Linked DNA regions of Homo sapiens: region 1 is linked to region 2. Evidence: fine-mapped expression QTL. A gene starts in region 2. The other region holds a variant in brackets. All regions are shown on one strand. Distances are between the middles of the regions. Region 1 has its middle 32 kb from the start of CCN3. Region 2 holds the start of CCN3 (cellular communication network factor 3).

What was found.
Region 1: its variant is fine-mapped to the expression of CCN3 in whole blood (INTERVAL, PIP 0.95).

What each region holds. Positions count from the first base shown.
Region 1 is chr8:119,447,342-119,450,251 of GRCh38, forward strand. No RefSeq gene overlaps it. Among named protein-coding and RNA genes, the nearest start is that of CCN3, 32 kb to the left of the region's middle. The variant G/T (reference allele first, on the strand shown) is at 1,667.
Region 2 is chr8:119,415,075-119,417,984 of GRCh38, forward strand. CCN3 (cellular communication network factor 3) reads left to right here and starts at 1,372. Exons shown (of 5, transcript NM_002514.4): 1 at 1,372-1,542; 2 at 1,670-1,895. The coding sequence starts at 1,459. LOC124902009 (a long non-coding RNA gene) reads right to left here and starts at 1,235. Exons shown (of 2, transcript XR_007061077.1): 1 at 1-1,235.

The sequences.
Region 1 (2,910 bases), 32 kb after region 2:
CGATGCCCCATCACCCGGGAGAAGGAGAGAAAGGGAAATCCTGGAATTTACTAAAGATGGCTGGGGTATAAAATTAACTATAAAATAAAACTGGAAAGGAGACACTTTGTATGAATTTAGGGTTTCATTTGAAATTGTAGTTATCCCAAAGAAGGTAAGAATGACCAAGTAACTATTAAAGCTCTAGTTATCAGAATTTTCCCATTGGATTGAAAAGATTTGGAATGAATGACAGATCAGTTTCTTCTCATACACTCCCACTATCAGGTAGCAAAAGGGAGAAAATAGCCATGAAAAGAGAAGAGAGGTATGGAAGTAAGGATTAGTGGTGCTGACTGGCTCTCAGTTTTATTTTAACTTTTAAATCATCCTGTCTTTCATCTAGAGAATAATGATGTTGGGAAAAATTTCCCCATTAGAATAACTTTACCCCAAATAAAGAACAATGAAACTAGCAAACCCTTAGTCAAAATTTGGAGGAACTCACAGCTTGAAGTATTATAAGATTACTATAAATTTCTCCCCAAAGCTATGATTTCTGTTTCACAGAAGAAATATGCCCAATGACTACATGATTAGAAGTTAGAATGGATATCAGTTCCACCCCTTTTTATTTTATAGGTAAGGACACTGAAAACCCCAACTCCACTCAACAGAAATATTTTTGATCCTGGATAGAGTTACTGGGAACATATTCCAATAAATCTTTATGAGTGTATTTTTAACATAAGCATAACTATAAGCTAATTCATTCATATAAATTAGCACTTCTGCCAGTTAATAGGGGAAGAAGAGGGACAGAAATATAAATACATACAATGATCTATTCCTCTCCTCACGAGTTCTATAAATAATATTTCATCATTGAAACAAAACTTATAATACCTCCTGATACTCAAGACAATGATATTTAAAAGTGGAAAAGGCAAAAGGAACCGAAATGGAAGTAAGGTTTCCATGCTTTACTTGAATTAATAAAGTATTGATACATTGACTGCAATAAGTCACATATATATATTATAATATCCAGAGCAACCACTAAGAAAATTATACAAAGATATGTACCAAAAAACACTATAAATAAATCAGTGGAGGCCAGGCACAGTGGCTCACAGCTGTAATTCCAGCACTTTGGGAGATTGAGGCGGGTGGATCACTTGAAGTCAGTTTGAGATCAGCCTGGCCAACACGGCAAAGCCCCATCTTTACTAAAAATACAAAAAAAAAAATTTAGCCGGACATGGTGATGCACACTTGTAGTCCCACCTACTCAGGAAGCTGAGGCAGGAGAATTGCTTGCACCTGGAGGTGGAGGTTGCAGTGAGCCGAGATGGTGCCACTGCACTCCAGCCTGGGTGATAGAGTGGGACTGTGTCACAAAAACAAACAAACAAATCAAAACAAAACAGAAAACCCTGACACTGGGTAATTCATAAAGAAAAGAGGTTTGGTTGGCTCATGGTTATGCAGACTCTACACTGACATCACTCAGCTTCTGAGGAGGCCTCAGGGAACTTTCAGTATAATGGCAGAAGGTGAGCAGGAAGCAGGCATGTCATGAGGCCAAAGAGGAACAAGTAGGGTTGGGTGGGGGAAATTGCCACATACTTTTAAATGACCAGATCTTGCAAGAACTAGCTCAGAACCACAAAAACAGCACCAAGCT[G/T]TGAGGGATCTACCCCCATGACCCAAACACCTCCTACCAGGGCCCAACTCCAGTACTGGGGATTACAATTTAACATGAGATTTGGGCAGGGACAAATACCCAAACTACATCACATTTCTTGCTTTCCAGTCACACTAAGTCTTCTTGAAAGAATAGTCTATGCTCCCTTCTCTACTTTGTTGTTGTATCTTACTTATGGCTGCAAGAAACAGACTACTCAACTAAAAATTTCCCCAAACAAATTGGATTCTATTGACTCGCATAATAAGCTAGGAGATACGTGGCCTCCAGCATTTGTTTAATGCACAATAATATCTTCAGATATGTAAGTTCATTCCTTTCTTTGATTCCCTCATCCTCAGATGGTGTCCTCATGTCTTTAAGAGCATCTCCAGGGATCACATCCTCACACAACTACTTAGACAGGAGGAACAGGAGGAACAGGAGACAAGGAAGAAGGCTCTTCTTAATCATTGTTCTCTTTCTTTTCTTTTCTCTTTTTTTTTCAGACAGAGTCTTGCTCTGCCACCAGGCGGGAGTGCAGTGGCATGATCTCAGCTCACTGCAACCTCTGCTTCCCGGGTTCAAGTGATTCCCCTGCCTCAGCCTCCCGAATAGCTGGGACTACAGGCACGCGACACCATGCCTGGCTAATTTTTTTGTATTTTAGTAAAGACAGGGTTTCACCATGTTGGCCAGGATGGTCTCCATCTCCTGACCTTGTGATCTGCCTGCCTTGGCCTACCAAAGTGCTGGGATTACAGGCGTGAGCCACCACACCCGGCCCCCGGCCCTCTTCCTTTTCATCTGTGAGAAAAAGTTCCCTAGCGGTCTTTCTGTAGTTCCCCTTGATCAGATTTAAATCGCATGGCCATCTCTACTAACAAGGAAAACCACAAAAGCATTTTAAGACTCTATCCCAGCAGGAGACTCTGCCTGTAGGGAAGAAGTGAAGAGAGTGGCCCTTGGTAAATTGGCCAAGAGAATTGGCTATGCTCATCATCCTTTTAGTTTAAAGAGACAGCAGTGTCTGGGGAGTGCAGTGGTGGAGCATGCGAACTTTAAGCCCCTTTTCTGTTTGAACCTCCTACAGAATTTTAGCATATTGACTACTTCCTCCTTCCCACAAATTTCTACTGGAACAAGTAATTTCACATCACCCTATCCTAATGTCCCAGTATCTCTGTGCCCCTTTCCATTCAGTCTTGCTTTTCCATCGTGTCTTAAATGTAAATAAGCCTTTT
Region 2 (2,910 bases):
GGTGTTGCAGAGGCAGACCTGGCCCCTTCCGCAAGCTGCCTTTGATTTCCTTCATGCTGGGGACAGATGAGGTAGAGGCCATTTGTTTCTTTTTAAACTCTAGAATTACATCACAGGCCTGTATAATTTTCCTTAAAAAGTGTTTTTTGTTTTTTTCCAAAGCAACTATCCTCAAAAGAGCTGGGCATAGTTCTCCTAGGGGCAGCACCAGTGTTGAAGTGTGGGGGGAAACTGTTCTAAATCCTTCAAACAATGTCACCTTTGGAGCAGTAAAACTGCTCCCTTTTTCCCATGAGAGATGACAAGCATGCCCCAGCAATCATTTCTTGAAAGCGGATGCCCGGTGAGAGAAGGATTTGATTTGCTGAAGGGTCAGCCAAGTTAAGCCAGTTTCTTCCTCATTTCTTCCCTGGCTGGAGGTTTTGATGGTGGTGATGGTGGTTGAACTGAACCCACTTAGAAAACTGTCAAAGGTTTCTGGACTCTCAGGTGTGCCGTCTCACATTTGGTCTGCTACAGCAGGTGCTTCAAGGCTTTCTTCTGCCAAGATTTCTTTGTTTTATTTTATGATGTTTTCTTTATGTGTGTGTGTGTGTGTGTGTGTGTGTGTGTGTGTGTGTGTTTTACTTTTATTTCTAACAAACCTGTGGACCTTGGGGTTTAAGACTGAGTGAAGCTAGAAGGATTAGAGTCAAAAGAATTTTGCCATTTGGCCAATAGCATTCCCCACCTCCTGACATATCGATTTTTTTTCTAGATTCCCTTCCCCCTGCCACTCCCCTCCCCCCAACACACACACACTTTTCTCTTTCTCCTCTTTCTCTCCTTTCCTCCCTTGCTTCTCTCCCCTCCCTCTCAACACATTCAATGAGTGCCCTAAACGGTGACAAACTTGCATGTGCTTCCCTCATGACTAAACCCCTGGGCCTTCTGCCAATCCCCTGCAGATGGCCCCAAACTGCAGGCATCCCGTAAGGGGACCCCACGCTTGCAGCCCTGGTTGGAACGGTCAGGGTGGAGGAGGATGGTGGGGAGTGGTGGTGTCTTCGTCCTGGGAGAAGGCGAAGCAACTTCCAGGAGGAAACGGGCGTTTCCTTCCCACGCGCTCGAGCGAGCCCTGGGTCCTGGCCTCGGAACTCCACCCAGCCCCTCCCCACCCTCTGGGAAAAGCCAGTCGCCACACACAGGCACACGCAGGCCCCGGCGCCGCGCCCTAAGGAGAGCAGCACCCACAGCCAATTGCCATGGCAACCCCGGGGTTCGTTCCACTTCCCCACCCAGCCGATCTCCCCCCTCCTCCCTGCACTGCAGCCAACCGGCTTGTGCGCGTCCCAGGAGCGCGCTATAAAACCTGTGCTGGGCGTGATCGGCAAGCACCGGACCAGGGGGAAGGCGAGCAGTGCCAATCTACAGCGAAGAAAGTCTCGTTTGGTAAAAGCGAGAGGGGAAAGCCTGAGCATGCAGAGTGTGCAGAGCACGAGCTTTTGTCTCCGAAAGCAGTGCCTTTGCCTGACCTTCCTGCTTCTCCATCTCCTGGGACAGGTAAGTGGCACACCCTTAAGATGCCCCCAAGTTACTTTGCCCGCCTTGGTGGCCCCCATTTGGTCACCGGGCTCACTGCGTCTTCTGTCCCAGCTGAGTGGTTTCTCCTTGTCTCGCCTGCCTTCAGGTCGCTGCGACTCAGCGCTGCCCTCCCCAGTGCCCGGGCCGGTGCCCTGCGACGCCGCCGACCTGCGCCCCCGGGGTGCGCGCGGTGCTGGACGGCTGCTCATGCTGTCTGGTGTGTGCCCGCCAGCGTGGCGAGAGCTGCTCAGATCTGGAGCCATGCGACGAGAGCAGTGGCCTCTACTGTGATCGCAGCGCGGACCCCAGCAACCAGACTGGCATCTGCACGGGTAATCCTGCTCCCTCTGCTGTTTGACCTCTTCTCCTGCAGCTAAGTGAAGCTGCTTCCTCCCTTCTCTTTTGTATTCCCCTTCCCAGAGGGCGATAAGCAAATAATAATAATGCAATAAATGACATGTATAGAGCACTTACTGTGTGTCAGGCATGGTTTGGGGAGCACTTGGGGCTTTGGGGAGCGCCAGAGCCAGAAAGGAAACCTGCCCTGGGGGTGAAAGGCATTCCTCACTTGGCTTCCTAGACAAGAATCTAAGCAAAGGGGGAGCCACGCAGAGTTAAGGGCCAGTGAAGTCATTTCCTTCGGACACTTCTAGGGGGCCACTTGGGGCTGATGGAAGCTCGGGTTTACTCACACGCTCACAGTTTCCCAAACTGCAGTTGGGGAAAACCCAGCAGGTTTGTTTTCACACCTGTAATTGTCCCATTTGAACCAAAGCAGCTGCTAGTCTCCTGGGATAACTATGTAACCCTTTTCTGGCTGCAAGTAAAATAAAATGCAGGCAACTAGCCAATCCAGGCTTCTAAAACGTAATCAGTCGGGGATCAATTTTTCACATGATACAACATTGTAGTTGAAGATTGTCCCTTCCTTTCTGGACAGGAGGGCTTTTACTTTTTTCTCTAAGCTACTGATGATTTTATTATGCTTGAGTGTCAAGGAATCTTAATGCCCTTCCCAATTTGATCAGCTAACCTGTTGGAAAACATAAAGTACACTTTTTCTCTTTTTAAGTCTAAGCTGCTGGAGTAGGAAACTCTAAGGAGGTTCTCGCAAAATGACTGAACATTGGGAAAAATGGCCAGGGGACCTTGGGGACATCACTTCACAGTTGCACACCTCTTTCCTCATCCATAAAATGAGTGGCAAGACTAGATGATCTTGAAGGTTTCTTCTTGCTCTGAGAGGCCTCCATGAGGACATCACTCTACAGTAGATACATGAGAAACCAGATCGCCTGAACTAGAAAAGGACTTGGGTTTTGGAACATGCCCTCCAAATCTTACATA